Linked DNA regions of Homo sapiens: region 2 is linked to region 1. Evidence: fine-mapped expression QTL. Tissue or cell type: whole blood. Region 1 holds a variant in brackets; the other region holds the start of a gene. All regions are shown on one strand. Distances are between the middles of the regions.

Region 1 (8,346 bases):
GATTTCCTTTTAATTGCTTTGGGTATAACTTGCTCTTCTTTTTCTAGAGTCTTAAGCTGAAAATTTAGGTCATTGATTCCAAGCTTTTCTCTCTAAGATAGATATTTAAAGCTATAACCTTTAGTTGCATCTCACAAATTTTGATATGTTTTGTTTTCATTATTATTTAGTTCAAAACATTCTCTAATTTCTCTTGTAATTTCTTTTTTGGTACATTATTTAGAAGTGTGTTAATTTTAAAGAATTTGGAAATTCTCTAGGCATCTTATCAATATTTGTATTGTTATGGTCAGATAAAATATTATTTAAAATGTTAATCCTTTGAAATTTGTTGAGACTTATTTTGTAACCCAGCATATGGTCTATCTTGGTGAATGTTTCATGTGCATTTGAAAAGAAGGTGCATTTTGCAGTTGGTGAGTATAATGTTTTGTAAATGTCAGTGTGTTGCTAGTGTTATTCAGATCTTTAATGTCCCTACTTTCTTGCTCCTTGTCTTATCAGTTATTGTGAGAGGCATATTAATTTCTTAATATGATTTCAGATTTACTATGTCTCTTTTGTTTCTATTGGCTTTTTTTCCCTATACTTAAATGTCTATTTTAGGTGTGGACACATTTAAGACTTTTGTCTTTCTGATGAGTTGAATCTTTCAATTATGAGATGTCCTTTTCTATCTCTGGTAATATCCTTTGTCTTAAAGTGCTTTGGTATTAATATTGCCACATCAACTTCCTTATGCAAACTATTTCTGTAGTAAATATTTTGCATTAAAAACTTCTTTTAATCTATCTGTGTTTTTATATTTAAAGTGCATCTTTTGGACAGCGTACAGCTATATAGATCTCAGGGTCAGTTTCTATTCTATTGCTTGCTTCTTCTTGACAGCAGGTCACATTATTTTCTGGGGGTTTTTGTTGGCATGTCTATTTATTTTTTATTTTATACTGGATGTTCTGGTGGTTGTCACTCAAGGACACCTTTTACATTCTGCCAGCAGTAATATTCTTCACTCTACAATGTTGCTGAAGTCTCTTCTCAGCTGAAATCTCTTCATATATCTGACTGTACCACTCTTTACTCCTTCTATTGTCTCTAATTTTGTGCAAATTCATTGCAAAGACCAAATAATATAGCTGGAAGGAACTACAGGTTTTGGAACCAAATAGACTTGAATTTTAATCTTGGTTCTGACACTTCATAGCTAGGGTATCTTGGGCAAGTTCTAAAATCTCTGTCTCTGTTTCTTCATCTTTAAAATAATTGCAAAAATTCCCCATCTTACTTGGCTTTTATGAGCACTGAAGATGACATAGACATATCATAGAGCACATAGTAGATATTCAATAAATTGTACTGGCTATTATTAAGTACGAATACATCTGGTTCAAGTTTTCTACATCTCATAAGAGACTTCGCTGTTTAACTGGATAGCCTATCCAGTGCTTCAGCCCATTGACTTCCTTGACTCCAACAACCTCTACCTAAAATTCACTTCCCAATCCCATGGCCATATTTAGAAACTCTCATCATCTAGAGGCATACCACTTTAGAAACTTTACACTTCAATATCCCAAATTTTTATCAAGATTTTTCTCCTTTCCTTTGTTATCTTGTCTTCTACAAACTTTTATTGAGCACTTACTTCCTGTTGGGTCTACCAAAATGAATGAGACAAATTTCTGTTCTCTGTTCTCATAAATCTCCAAGTGTGGTGAAAGGGACAGATAGGCAAGCATACAATAATAAAATCATGGTTATCACAGATTATTGTACAGAGCACAGGATGGATATCTAACCGAGCCTATGGATCAGGCTTCCTGGAGAAGCTACTGCCTTAGGTAATTTAGAAATAATAAGTAGAATTTAGCCACATAGAGAAGGCAGAGAGGACAGCAATCCCAGGGTCTAGAGGAAGCCTGACTTGTTAAGTCCAATTAGAGAGAGTGTAAGAGGACACAGAAGAAAGCCTCATCACAGAAAGCTTTGTAAGAGCATTTGTCAGATTTCCAAGTAAAGATCATCTGAACCATGGAAATAAGTGGAAAGATTCAAGAAATATGAAGGAGGTAGGATTGAAAAGACATGGTGACTGGATATTGGTGAAGGAGAATGAGATGTCAACAAGATTTCTGGCTTACATGACTGGCTGGATGGTGAAACTAAGAGGACAGACAGGAGCAGATTTTGGCCGCGGGGAGATGATGAGCTCAGGGTTGGGTCTGAGGTACCAACAGGACAACAAGGTGGAGACGTACAGTAGACAGCTGGATAGACAGATCTGGTGCTTAGAAAAGAAGTGAGATTGGACACAGAGATTTAGCAAAGCAGAGATGAGGCCATGAGAGTGGATGGGATTGTTCAGGGAGCATATGTAGAATGAGAAGATATTAAGAACAGAACACTAAAGTTAGATCTACAGACATATATTTGAGAGTCAATGAATATTGCTAGGGATTTTATAGTCTCAAGAGATGACAGTAGCTCCTTCCTTCCCTCTTCGCAGCTCCTCACCAGAAGTGGCTAGGTGCAGGTCCTCCAGCAAGAAGAGGAGGGAGGGTTTAGAATCCTGGTGATGCCCAGGCTGTGGGCTGGCTTGTGTTTGGCCCTGGATTCCTCTGCTCAGCAGGAGACGGAGGTGGGAGGAACTGAAGGCAGGGTGGATGGGGCTGTATATGTAAGGGTGATGTGGCTCTACCAGCACCTCCACAAAGGCTGACTTCCCTGTTGCTGCCTCTCCAGCCAGCAACACTGGCTGTCCCCCTGACAGAAGCAGGTCCACCACATACAAGAGCCGTTCAGTCTGCAAGACAGAAGTGGGACTTACTGCAGCACCTCCAGTATAAGACAGTAATCTAGCTGAAAATAAAAGTCTAAGGGACTTGTCCTAGAGCTGTACTTGGAAAATATTTCATGTATTCTTGTGATTGTGAAAATATATCAAAGAAAGGGAGCAAGTGGGCCTCAGCTGATCTTTGAACATGGATTACCCCTAAAATAAGTCCTGAAGTTCTAACCCCAGCTCTTGCCTTACTGTCCTCACACCTGGATAGAAGGGTGAAAGGTGCCCAAAGTTCCTTTGATGTGGCTGCTCAGGTATTGGCCAGTGAAGGGGACCAGTGTTCCATCTTCAGGGCTTACATGTAGATCAAACACCAAGGCTGAGGGTGGTGGCTCAGGGTAGTTGGAGAGGCGACTAATAGAATCCCTTATGAAGGTATCAAAGATGGGCCAGAACCTGCTCAGATGGACACACAGGCAAAAGCGTCAGACAGTTACAACACTTCCATTTATGACACACTCACACACTCCACCATACCCTAACAGTGATGTCATGTGGGTTTTTACTTCCATGGGCCAGTCCATCTCAGCCCTCTGCATCTCCCATCCCCCATCCTGGTAGGTACCTGGAGGGAAGGTGGGCTCCAAAGCCCCAGATCAAGGCAAAAAGAAAACTGCTGACAGCCAGCAAGTGTTCCCTGCACTTATCTGGCACATCGTCACTGTCAACCTGGGACCGGTTTAGAAAGCTGCTTTTTGAAGACCTGAAGCTTTGGGCCACAGGATCACTATAGCTGAGGTCCTCTGTGAAAGTTGCCATGGCCACGAGAGGAGCCCCAGTAGAAAAAGGTGGAAGGTGAAAGAAAGAAAAAAGGTTGACAGTATTACTTTTCACTCCTGGCCCAGATCCACCAAAGAACACACGCCCCAGGCTCCAGCTATATACCCCAGCTACCCTTAAGGCCCCATCTCTCTCAAACCAGCCCGTCCATCTTCCCACCTGGGCCAGGGGCCTTCTCCTCCTTTAGGCGAAGGTGGAGGTCAAGCAGACTATGCAAGATGCGTGCCATGCTGGTAACTTCTGCCACACCTGCACAAACAGCCTGCTGCCCGTGTACCTGCAGCAGAGAGCTGACACCTTGGCAGGTGAGGAATCGCAATGTTGCAGGCACCAGAACCTCAGCCATGTGGTTGAGCTCAGCGACTGTCCGGTGCTGCAGGCGGTACTCATAAGGAAGGGATGCCATCAGGGCACTAAGTATACACTGCCAAGTCTGCTCTCCACCACACCAGACTAGGGCACAACAGCCTACCACTGTGGGGGATATGCCTGTTGTGTCAGCCACCTCCATCAAGAGAAAGGTGCCTGGGGGTCGTGCTATCTGCTGTCCACTGGGGAGACTAAGCTGGGGAAGCTCACTCAGGAGGCAAGTGATGGAGTCCAGCCAAGCACCATTGGAGGCTCCATCACATATTATCCAGTGCTGGATCCCGATTGATTCCTCTGTCTGCCTCTTTTGGCCCATGTTGTTACACTGACCGGCTGCACGAAGTACCTTGGGAAAGATGCCATGATGCCAGCAGGAGCCCTCTAGCCATCCCAGGAACTCCTGGGGGCTGAGGCCACTGGGGTACAGGTGGGTAATTTCCACAGGCTGGCAGCCTTGGGTTGAGGTGTCCTCC[A/G]TGGCTGCCAGCCGATTCTGGATCTTAAATAAGCTGTGCCAACAAGTGGTCTTGCCGCTGCCCGCAGGGCCCAGGAGCAGAATGCCTGAGGCCCGGCTCAGGGCCTGGCTCAACTGTTCCAAGGACCCCAAAATGTCAGGGCTGGGATCCAGACCTACCTGTTGCAGTTCCTCCACCACCAATGGCTTCATCAGCTTGTAAGTCATAGGTTCTGCCAGCACTTGGCTGGCGCTAGGGAAAAGCGCACACAACAGCCCTCGGAGGTTGTGCAGGTGGAGCCCATTGAGAATGCTAAACAGTGGTGAGCGCAGTAGGGCAGCCTCCTCAATGGCAGCTAGGCTGCGAGGCTTCTGGCACTTCGGTTCCTCCTTGGTCACATTTAGTGTCCGTATTGTGTCTTCCAGTATCTGCTTGAGCAGTGGCAGGCGGCAGGGCAGGGGCCCAGACACCAGCTCACGCTCTAGAGAGAAGAATTTGGATAGGCGGGTAGCCATCTGGAAGGCATCCCTCATCCCTGCACCCAGCAGAGTCAGCTCTGCCACTTGCCGCAGATCAGGCAATGCCAATGCCACAGGCCGCAGCAGCAGGTGCAGGTTGGCAGGCACAGCAGAGCTCAGGGCACGCAGTACCAGGAGACAGCCATAGCCAAGGCGCACAGACACGTGATGTTTTTCAAAGAAGCTACTGCCAAGGAGCTGGGGCTGGGTGGGGTCTATGGTGCTTGTGTTTCGGGAAGCCTCCTGGTACAGTGGGGCATACAAGTGGTGCAGTTCACCCAGGCGCTGGCCCAGGGCAGAGAGCAAGCCAGGGGGCAGCTGATGAACTTTCTCCAACAGCAGCCAGGCACCACCCTGCAGGGCACCATTCAGATAGTTGCTCAGGCATTGAGCCTCTATCTGAGGTGAGCAGGGTAGCATCACCAGCTGGCGGCCCAGGGCCTGTGCCAGGCTGTTCACTATAGCTCTCTTGCCCACACCATTAGGACCCAGTACGGTCCCACAGGCCACCTCCTCTAGGGCCAATAATAGTACCAGGGCTGGCCGTTCAGGCAGTAGGCTGGGTAGAGGCCCTAGTCTAGGTCCCAGATACTCGTAATTGTACAGGAAGGACCTGCCTAGCACATCTATCCAGCATGCCGCTGGTGACAGAGAGGGTTCAGAAGATGCAATAGTCTTAAGACTCTGTAGGGGGCTTTTGGGGATTATGTGAGGTGAACCCAAGTGATACTTGAGTTGGCGGACCCAGTGAAAGTCTGTGAGATCACTGACCTGGTGCTGTTCCAGCAGCTGTGCTATATCCCGGTGAGTCACTGCCATGACCAGCAGGGCACTGAGAAGGCTGGTCTGGCGGACAGAAGGCAGGGACTGCCCACCTTGGGAAGCCCTCTGGGCCCGCATAAAATTCACCAGTACCTCAAGCTTGCGCATATGCATGGAGACCATGGCCAGGGTACCCCACTCAAGCAGAGCCTCCTCCATCTCGGCCCGCCATACCACCTCCTCTGCCACCAGCACACACTGCCATGGGAAGGCCTGGACTAAGTCGATCCAGTGCTGGACATACAGTTGCAGGTACAACTTGTTTTGCTTGGGCAGTTGCTTGAGGGCCTCACCTAGAGATGGGCCTCGAGCAAGGCGAGCAGCCACACAGCCCTGCAGCATGTGCACCAGTGCCAAGCGCAGACACTTCTCCAGAGAGGCCAGCCACTTAGGGAGATCTGGATGCAGAGGAAGGGGACCCTGCAGCTTCACCTCCTCCCCACCTGCCCCTAGCACTGCAAGTGCCTCCACCTGAGTCTGTGTGTTTGGGCTTGACTCCCAGTCATCTGTGTTTTTCTCACCAGTTGGGCAAGACCTGAAGCTCACAGCATGCACATGAGGAAAGCAGCGTCGTACCCATAGCTGGGCTTCGCATGATTCCAGTCGAGCAGCCAGCAGGGCTACCAGCTCACTGTCACTAAGGAAGAAGAGGCGGGGGAAGTGAGCACACACCCCATAGAGCACGCTCTCCAGACTCATGATGATGCCCTCCAGCTCCACCGATCCTGCTTGCAGCAGTTGTTGCAGCTGCTGGCCTTGGAAGTAAGGGCTCCTCTCGGCACTGGGCACTACAAGTGACAGAACCATGGGGTCAGCTACAGAGATGCGCATCAGGGTTCGATACTGGTCATCCATGACCTTGAAACGAGAGTTCTGTGGTGAGGGAGAGGATAAAAGTGAGGGCCAATATGAAGTGGCAGCTCCCCTTTCCCACGCTGAGCCCTGCTATTCAGGAACCCTTCTTGCCCTCTCTGCCTCAACCCCCTTCCCTACCAGGTCAGCATTAGGAAACTGGATCTTCATCTCATGCAGAACTTTATTCAGAAAAATCCACTTCTGCTGGAAAGTCAGCCACACCTCCAGCAGGGCACCTGTGTAAGCAGCCAGAGGAATGCTGGTGGGAAACACTAGGGTTCTACCTTCTGCAGGGGAGTCCACCCTGCTCCTGACCTCTCAGGTACCCCACCAGCCCAAGCAAAATACTCTGCCCAGCAGGACTCAGGGAACTTGCTTGAGGGAGAAAAAACTTTCACTGTGAATAAAAACCTGATCTCTTCATCCCAAGAAACAGCCCTGAAGGAGGTCCTCACTGTGTTCTTCATATCTTCTCCCACCCAACCTCCACCTCTCACCCCCATCCCTCTGGGACATCCTGCCTCAGGTCTCACCCATCAGCCTGGCTAGAGGCCTGCACTTACCCAGGCCATGCATGATGGCCACCCACTCCAAAGCTATTTTGTTTAAATCTCCTGACTTTTCGATGGCCAAGATCTTGGACAACACCTGAAGACTTTCCTGGATGGAATCCTGCAGGTTGCTGTAATCTAAGACAGAAAAAGCTGAACTGGCAGTCAGATGAGGCAAGGGCCGGGGCTGGGGGAGAGAAGAGGAGACCAGGGGAACCTTCCAGGAGAGGCAGTTACAGAGACCCTGATGCCCTTTCTGTCTTTTTCTTTCCCTTTTTTTTTTTTTTTTTTTTTTTTTTTGAGACAGAGTCTCGCTTTGTTGCCCAGGCTAGAGTGCAATGGCACGATCTCAGCTCACTGTACTATGCTTCCTGGGTTCAAGCAATTCACCTGCCTCAGCCTCCTGAGTAGCTGGGATTACAGGTGTGTGCCACCATGTCCGGCTAATTTTTTGTATGTTTAGTAGAGACGGGGTTTCACCATGTTCATCAGGCTGGTCTCGAACTCCCAACCTCAGGTGATCCACCCACCTCAGCCTCCCAAAGTGCTAGGATTACAGGTGTAAGCCACCATGCCCAGCTGCCCTTTCTGCCTTTAAGGATTCCATCAGCCAATATGTAGAGCCAGTAAAGCACTGGGGTCTCAAAATGGTGAGAGAAGAAGCTCCTCCTTTCCCAAGGCACTGTGGGCAGACTCCAGGCCAGCTAATTTCCCTGACTAGCTGCTATGAGTATCCACGTAACTCCATGGAAGTGCTTTGTAAGAACTAGAGCCTCTAGCCCGGGAAGAGGGCTGAATGGCTCCAGGACCCTACGTAATATTTCTATAGCAAGAATGCCCATTCTGTCTTAAAACGGGTCTTGGTAGAGAAGCTGAGAACAAACTTTTCTCTCATAGTCTTAGTGCTTGGCTCCCTGGTGCTGCTTAAAGAGTTATCCCTTCATGCCACAAGTGCTTGGTAAGACTAGGGCTGGAAATGAGGTAGGGACACTAATTGGGGTAAAAATGAGAAGAATCAAGAAAGGAGGTTTATTCAGACACATGTAGGACTCTCCAAACATCCCTGGTGGGAAGAAAACTCATTATCCTGCTCTCAGAGTCACACAACTTCTACTCCACTCTCTAGAGAAAACAGCACTGGACTAATGCTTTCAGCC
Region 2 (8,000 bases), 50 kb after region 1:
ATTTTCATTCTTCTTACTTGTCTCATTTAACATGTAATACTACTGACTGCTCCCTCCTCCTTGAAACTCTGTTTGATGTTTTTGTTAATCTAATCTAGACTTGAACACTCCCCCCACATGCTTTCCCCCTAACTACACTCCCTCTCTCTCTCTCTCCCACCTGCAGAGAAGCAGCCAGGCAAAAGACAGTATTCTTTTGTTTTATAGCACTTATTACAATTTGTAATTATATTTTACTTGTTATCAACTTAACTATATCTCCCTAACTAAACTGTAATACCTCAAGTGAAGGGATTGAGTCTGTCTCATTCACTTCTGTATCCCTAGCATCTTGCAGATCCTAATAAATGTAGCTATCCAACACTTATTGAATGAATGAATGCCTGGCAAACCACTCCGGGAGAACGTAATGCAAATTAAGCCATATTAGCTAGACCTCAGAGGTTTACTGCCAGGTTCAAAGGGAGGGCAAAGAACTTGATCCCTTCCCAACATCTCAGCCCATGCCAATTCAGTCAAGTTCTCCCAGGAAAGGAAACTTGTACTCAAGGCACAGGGCAGCTCTTTGAAAAAGGAAAAGATTCCAATAGGGCCACCATAAATTTATGGCATTGGCCACCTCCCATTAGGGCCCCAGGAGCCTGCCTATCTATCTAACATTAGGCTTTAATGGAAAGACTTGACCCAGCCATAAACTTACAGCAAAAACTGAGGAAGCCAACCTTAATTAAAGGTAAAACTAGCCTTCTTCCCGAACAGTAAATGTGCCACAGACAGCTGCAAAGCATTGTCTAGAAAATGAGGCCAGAGGACAAGGAGAATTCCAAAACTAAAGTTAAAAAACTCTCTTGGGCACGGTGGCTTATGCCTGTAATCCCAGCATTTTGGGAGGCCGAGGTGAGCAGATCACTTGAGACCAGGAGTTGGAAACCTAGCCTGGTCAACATGGCGAAACACTGTCTCTACTGAAAATACAAAAATCAGCTGAGCGTGGTGGCATGAGCCTGTAATCCCAGCTACTCGGGAGGCTGAGGCAAAAGAATCGCTTGAACCTGTGAGGCAGAGGTTGCAGTGAGCCAAGGTCAGGCCACTGCACTCTAGCCTGGGCGACAGAGTGAGACTCTGTTTCAGAAAAAAAAAAAAAAATCGAAAGTTAGAGAACGCTGAGAAGAGAAGGTCTCTGTAAGCATTCTGAAATCCTGTAGAGAGCTCTGATAGCCAGATATTTTAAAAAAGAAAACAATAGGGCCGGGCGCAGTGACTCACGCCTGTAATCCCAGCACTTTGGGAGGCAGAGGTGGGCGGATCATGAGGTCAGGAATTCGAGACCAGCCTGGCCAACATAGTGAAACTCCGTCTCTACTAAAAATATAAAAATTAGCTGAGTATGGTGGCACGTGCCTGTAGTCCCAGCTACTCAGGAGGCTGAGGCAGGAGAATCACTTGAACCCGGGAGGCGGAGGTTGCGGTGAACCGAGACCATGCCGTTGCACTCCAGCCTGGGCGACAGAGTGAGACTCTATCTCAAAAAAGGAAAGAAAGAAAGAAAGAAACAAAAGAAAAATATATCACTCAAGGGGCCAGAGTGCCCACACTGGCAGGGCAAGAAGAAGACTCTGGAAGGGTCAAAATGAAATTCTATCCAGTAGTGCTGCCAACTCCACTCTGCCTTGGAGCCGGTTTAAGTCACATAGACATGTGGGAAGGACACTCGGACACACATTCCCCAGGGGTACCTTGAGGGAAAGACCCAACATCCAGGAATCAACTCACAGTAGGCCCAGGCAATGTTCAGTGATTATGAATGAATTATAGAAAAATAATTAAGGAGACTTCTGACATCATCTAAGAAAAAAACCTGGAAACTGAAAAGTCAAGCTGTTATTCTAAAGCTTTGGCTGCCTCATAGCTGACTTCTGATTTTCATTAATTTCTGTATTTCTCTATGGGGATTAAGACTAACACCACTGGGTTTATTTTGCAGAGAAAAAGGAAGAGGAAAGTAGCCTCACACTAGCTTTGTGTGGAGTTGGGCTAATCCCTGTGATAAACAGAGAGCTGGATCTAAACTTCCAAGTGACCCCAGAGGCACCCATAAAACAGCAACTTTTTCTCCTCTGCTCAAGCCCTAGACTGAGTCCCTCACTTACCTGGTCTCTTTTCTTCCAACAGGCTCCACCTCTGCATTGTCAGTGTCACTGCTTTCATACCGTACAGGGATGTCCGCTGCCAGTGCCAAGGGAAGGAGACTAAGTCCATCCAGCCACACAGCCTCTTCTAGGGCCACCTGAGCACCAACAATGCCCAGGCAGCGCTGTAGCTCAGGCAGTGTCAATGGTCGCAGCCAGGTGGCCAGCTCCTCCTTTACTTGCTGCCTGCTCCACTGGGCCTGCACAAAAGGGCAAGCTGGGCATGGGGGCCTGTGATGGAGCCTCCGCTTCTGGGGACAGCAGTCAGCATGGGAAGCACTGTCTAACAAAGAGCTGTCTGGAGGAAAGGCCTGGACAATGGCACCTAGCAGGTCCAGATGGAGGTGGGTTTGGACCCAGGGTGCCCAGCAGTACAGCTGCTCCAGGAAGGGCAGCAAATCAAGGTGGCCAACTAGCAACTCACGATATGGAGGCAGTAGACCCAGTACTGCATGAAGATAGCGCCAAGCTGCAGGGCTACTGTCCTGCAACACAGCTGAGAACAGAGTTCGGAGCTCAGCTAGCAGGAGTTCCAGCACTGTGGGCTGCTCTGACTCAGTCACTGGCTTCACGAACTGCCTCTGTTTCTGCTGGCAGGCCAAGGGCTGTTCTTTGCTGTCCAAGACACATATGGAGTGCCAAGACTTAAGGGAATCAGATGATGTCTCATCAGAAGACAAACCTACCCTCCTCTCCTCCGGGACCATGAGGAGCTGGGCATTCAACTGCTGTCGAAGTGACCTTGCCCATAGCTCAGGCTCCAACTGCCAGTTCCAGGATGCCAGATGCGGGGCCTCACCTGCATGGGCCAGCCCAGCAGAGGGGCCAGAGAAGGGACCTCAGGCTCTGGGCAGGGGATGGTCAGAGTCAATGGGGTTAGGAGGAAGAAAGGACCTGGGACAGGGAAATAGATGGAGCTACAGAGCAGAGCCAGACCAGCAGAGAGCCTTTCCTGAGACCCTCAGGCCCTCCCTACTGCTTCCCCAAAGACTCTGGTAAGGAGCAGGCCTAAGACAGACGTGAGAGCCCTCCTTGCAGAAGAGTTCCTTCTTACCTCCCAGTACCCTGTCCCCCTCACCTGGCCTAGGGGGGTTAGGAGGCAAGGCAAGGGAAGAGAGCCCGATCTGCTGATGAGGTTTCATTGAAGAGTGCCTGCTGGAGCAGTGAATGAACTTAGACTTGAGTTCCAGTCTGAGGCTCACCCTAATCATAGCCACCCATACACGGAGAGACTCGCACACAGACGTGCAATCACCTGAAGAGGCAAACTGACACACCGACAGAGCTCACTCTGAACCTCGGTCACAGCAAGGAATCTGCACTCGAGCTGGCGATCGCCTGAAAAACGGGTTAACAGGTCGTCACTCGAAGGCAGCAGAGCCCCAGTCCCATGACGTCTTCGCCCACAGCCTAAGGAGGTCGTGAAGACAGAAAGCCGAGGAGCAGGCACAGCAAATGATGGTCAGGATGCAGGTAGGGGAAGACGTTAACAGGCAAAGGAGGGGGCTGGGAGAGCGGGGAAGAGGAGGCGGACTCTGTGGGAGGGGGTCCTAGGGAACAAAGAGAAATGGATCCGGAGCCGAGGACTCACCCGCAGCTCCACCCGCACCCAGCTGTTAGAACCGTTACAAGATTCCAGAAGGACCGAGTCTTTGCCAGGAGCATCCGGGGGAGCCAGAAAGAGGAGGGGCCAGGGTCCGATATGGGCGGGGCCGAGAGGGCAGAGCCCAAGCCTGGAGGGGCAGAACTAGGTTCAACCTGTGGGCTAAGGCTTGCCTGGGACAGGGACCTGTAGAGGACCAGGCGGGGTCTGAACTGCACGTGCAGTACGGTTGACTCGGGAGACTAGCAATCCAGAGGGTGTCGTAAGCAGGTGTTTATATCCATTCGCTGAGTATCTAAACTAGTGCCAGGTCTTTGGTATGTCTTTGGTACTCCCCCATCCCCACCCCCAACGTATCCATCTACCCTATCCCACCTCCCCAAAAGAAGCCCGAATAAAACAAAATCCTTGATCTCAAGGAGCTCAACATCTATTTGGCACGGGGGGAGGGGGATTTTTTGGGGAAGGGCTTATGGAGGGGCTAATTTTTAAAAATTAAGTTGAATGAGGCCGGGCGCGGTGGCTCATGCCTGTAATCCCAGCATTTTGAGAGGCCGAGGCGGGTGGATCACGAGGTCAGGAGATCGAGACCATCCTGGCTAACACGGTGAAACCCTGTCTCTACTAAAAATACAAAAAAATTAGCCGAGCGTGGCGGTGGGCGCCTGTAGTCCCAGCTACTGGGGAGGCTGAGGCAGGAGAATGGCGTGAACCCAGGAGGCGGAGCTTGCAGTGAGCAGAGATCGCGCCACTGCACTCCAGCCTGGGCGACAGAGGGAGACTCTATCTCAAAAAAAAAAAAAAAAAAAAAAAAGTTGATGATTAAAATAAAAAAAGAAATTCAGCCCACCTCTCCTCTGAAATCAGATTAGTATATCCAACTGCCTACTTAATGTCTCCACCTGGAGAGCTTATAGGTATCTCAAACTTAAAATGTCCAAAAGCAGGCTCCTAACCACCCTTTCCCCACCAAAGAAATGCTGCTCCTTTCACTGTCTTTCCCACCTCAGTCAATGGCAAATCCATTCTTTCTGGTTTCTCACACCAAAACCTTGGAGTCAGCTTTGAGACCTCTTCCAAACCCCTTCTTTCTCTTTCCCTCTTCTTTTTCCCTTTCTCTTTCTCTCTCTCCCCCTCCCTCCATAAGTAATCCTTCAGGAAATTCTGCTGGTTGTGCCTTCAGAATATATCCAGAATCCAACTATTTCCCACCATCTTAAGTACTACAACCTTGGTCTAAGCTGCTATCATTTCTCACCTGGGTTTTTCCACAGCCTTTGAACTGTTCTCCTTGCCTCAGATCCTTCTCATGCTTCTCACCATTGCCCCTACAATCCATTCTTTTTAGAGCAGCCAGTGATCCTTTTCAAATATAGGCAGATCCTATAACTCCTCTGCTCATAGCTCACTAATGCCCCCTCATCTAATTCCTTCAGCTGAAGGCCAAAGTCCTATCATGGCCTACAAATTGCTGATAACTGCCTGCTACCTCTGTAGGCTTCTCTCTTCACATTCACACTCTACTACTGCTGTGCCTGAATCACACCAGCCATACCCCCACCTCACAGACTACATACAAGCTGTGCTGTCTGCTTGTGTATCAGTTAGGAGATACACAAGTTATGACTGTTATTTATTTATTTTTTTGTAGAGACAGGGTCTCACTATGTTGCCCAGGCTGGTCTCGAGCCTCTGGCCTCTAGCAATCCTCCCACCTCACCCCTAAAGTGCTGGGATTACAGGCGCGAGCTATTATGCCCGGCTGTGATGGTTAATTTTATTTGTCAATTTGACGGAGCTAAGGGATGCTCAGATAGCTGGTAAAGCATTATTTCTGGGTGTGTCTTTGAGGGTATTCCTGGAAGAGATTAGTATTTGAATAGGTAGACTAAGTAAAGATCATCCTCACCAATGTGGATGGGCATTGTACAATCTGTTGCCTAAACAGAATTTAAACAGGCAGCTGGTGGACTTGCTGTTTTAGCTGAGACATTCATCTTCTGTCCATGGACATCAGTGCTCCTGGTTCTCAGGCCTTCAAACTTGGATTGAATTCCACCACCAGATTTCCTGGTTCTCTAGTTTGTAGACAGCAGATTGTGGGACTTCTCAGCCTATCAGTTCTGTTTCTCTGGAGAACCCCCACTAACGCGCAAGTTTTCTGGAGCTGCATAACAAGTTATTACAAACTAAGCAGCTTAAAAACAACACCTATGTAGTACCTCACAGTTCTGTAGATCAGATGTCCAGCATGACTTTACTGGATTCTTTGCTCAGGGTATCATAAGCCTGAAGTCAACATGTTGACGGGGCTACTCATCTGGTGGCTCTAGGGGGTGGGGGGTGTGGGGGGATCCACTTCCAAGCTATTATTGTTGTTGGCAAGATTCAGTTTCTTGCAGTTCTAAGACTGATGTCCCTGTTTTCTTCATGGCCATTAGCCAGGAGCCACTCTCAGGTCCTAGAGGCCACCTGTCTTCCTTGACATGTGGTTCCTCCATTTTCAAGCCAACAACAGTGCCTCTAACCCTTCTCATGCTTCACACTTTTCTGATGTCCCCTTCTGCAACCATAAAGAAAACACTCTGCTTTTAAAGGGCTCATGTGACTCATGTGACTAGATCAGGCCCACCCAGACAATCGCTCTTACAGTCAACTATGCCATATATTATAACCTTCTCACATAAGTAAAATTTGTCACATTCACAGTCCCATGGAATATGCAGCGTATACTAGGGAGATATATACTAGAGAGCAGGAAATCTCAGAGACAGTGGTCCCCAACCTTTTTGGCACCATGGACCAGTGTAGTGGAAGACAATTTTTCCACGGACCAGGGGAGGGGTTAACGGTTTCAGGATGATTCAAATGCATTACATTTATTGTGAGCTTTACTTATTTTACTATCACATTGTAATATATAATAATTATACAACTCACCATAATGTAGAATCAGTGGGAGCCCTGAGCTTGTTTTCCTGCAACTAGACAATCCGATCTGGGGGTGATGGGAGACAGTGACAGATCATCAGACATTAGATTCTCATAAGGAGCATGCCACCTAGCATGTGCTATTCACAATAGGGTTCATGCTCCTATGAGAATCTAATGCCACCAATGATCTGACAAGAGGCAGAGCTCAGGTAGTAATGTGAGCGATGGAGAGTGGCTGTAAATACAGATGAAGCTTCACCTGCTCACCCACCACTCACCTCCTGCTGTGTAGCCTGGTTCCTAACAGGCCATGACTGGTACCAGTCTGTGGCCCGGGGGTTGGGGACCCCTGATCTAAAACTTCTACCTACCACACAAATGCTGTAATAAAAAGACCCAAAATATCATGGCTTAAACATGATAGTTTATTTTTTTCTCTCACATAACCATCCAAATATAAGTACTCTGAGGCTACCACGGTAGCCTTCAGTTGTTCTGCCTTCTCCAAGGAAGTAGTCCTCATCTTTAAGGTCCAAAATAATTTACCACCATGTGTGCCACGTCCCATCCCAACTAGTGAGATGGAGGGAAAAGGAAAGGAGAAGGCATACCCTTTCTTTTAAGGGCACAGCCTGGCAACTGCACACATCAATCACATGACCAAGCCTAGCTGTAAGGAAAGCTACAAAATCTAATCTTCATTTTCAGTGGTCATATGCCAACAGAAAATTTAGAGGTTCTTTACATAAAGAAAGGAGACAATGGATACTAGAGGACCACTAGTGGTTTACACAACTAGTTGAACAGTAGAAGAGTGAACACTTCTTCAAGATGCTCTCAAGGCTTACTCTCTCAATTCTCTGCTCAAATGTCACCTTATTAGTGAGTTCTTCCCTAACTGCCCAACAGAAAATAGCAACTCTCTCCCCAACATCCTTATCCTCTTTACTTGCATTACTTCTCTCCACAGCACTTATTACCACTTCATATAAATACTTATTTATTTCCTATTTCCCCTGACTAGAAATATAAGCTCCATGGTAGCAGAGATTCTGATTGCTGCCTACTCTATCCCCAGCTCCTATACTAGGCACCATGAGTACATGATCAGAAAATATTCATGGAAAAAAATACATAAATGTATAACAATCTTCATTTGTGAGTAAGAAGATGGGCTCTGGAATCAGACTGCCTGGATTGAAATCCTAACTTCATCACTTACTAGTCATGGGATATTTTACCTCAGTTTCACTTTTTGAAAATGAAGATAATAA

What was found. PIP is the estimated chance that this variant, and not a neighbour inherited with it, causes the effect.
Region 2: it holds the start of DNHD1, and the variant in region 1 is fine-mapped to the expression of DNHD1 in whole blood (TOPMed, PIP above 0.99).

What each region holds. Positions count from the first base shown.
Region 1 is chr11:6,543,102-6,551,447 of GRCh38, reverse strand. DNHD1 (dynein heavy chain domain 1) reads right to left here. Exons shown (of 43, transcript NM_144666.3): 19 at 7,202-7,327; 20 at 6,777-6,874; 21 at 3,782-6,656; 22 at 3,408-3,585; 23 at 3,046-3,238; 24 at 2,515-2,803. Among named protein-coding and RNA genes, the nearest start is that of DNHD1, 50 kb to the right of the region's middle. The variant A/G (reference allele first, on the strand shown) is at 4,465.
Region 2 is chr11:6,493,112-6,501,111 of GRCh38, reverse strand. It overlaps DNHD1 (dynein heavy chain domain 1), which reads right to left and starts at 3,832. Exons shown (of 43, transcript NM_144666.3): 1 at 3,781-3,832; 2 at 3,445-3,527; 3 at 2,151-3,341. The coding sequence starts at 2,896.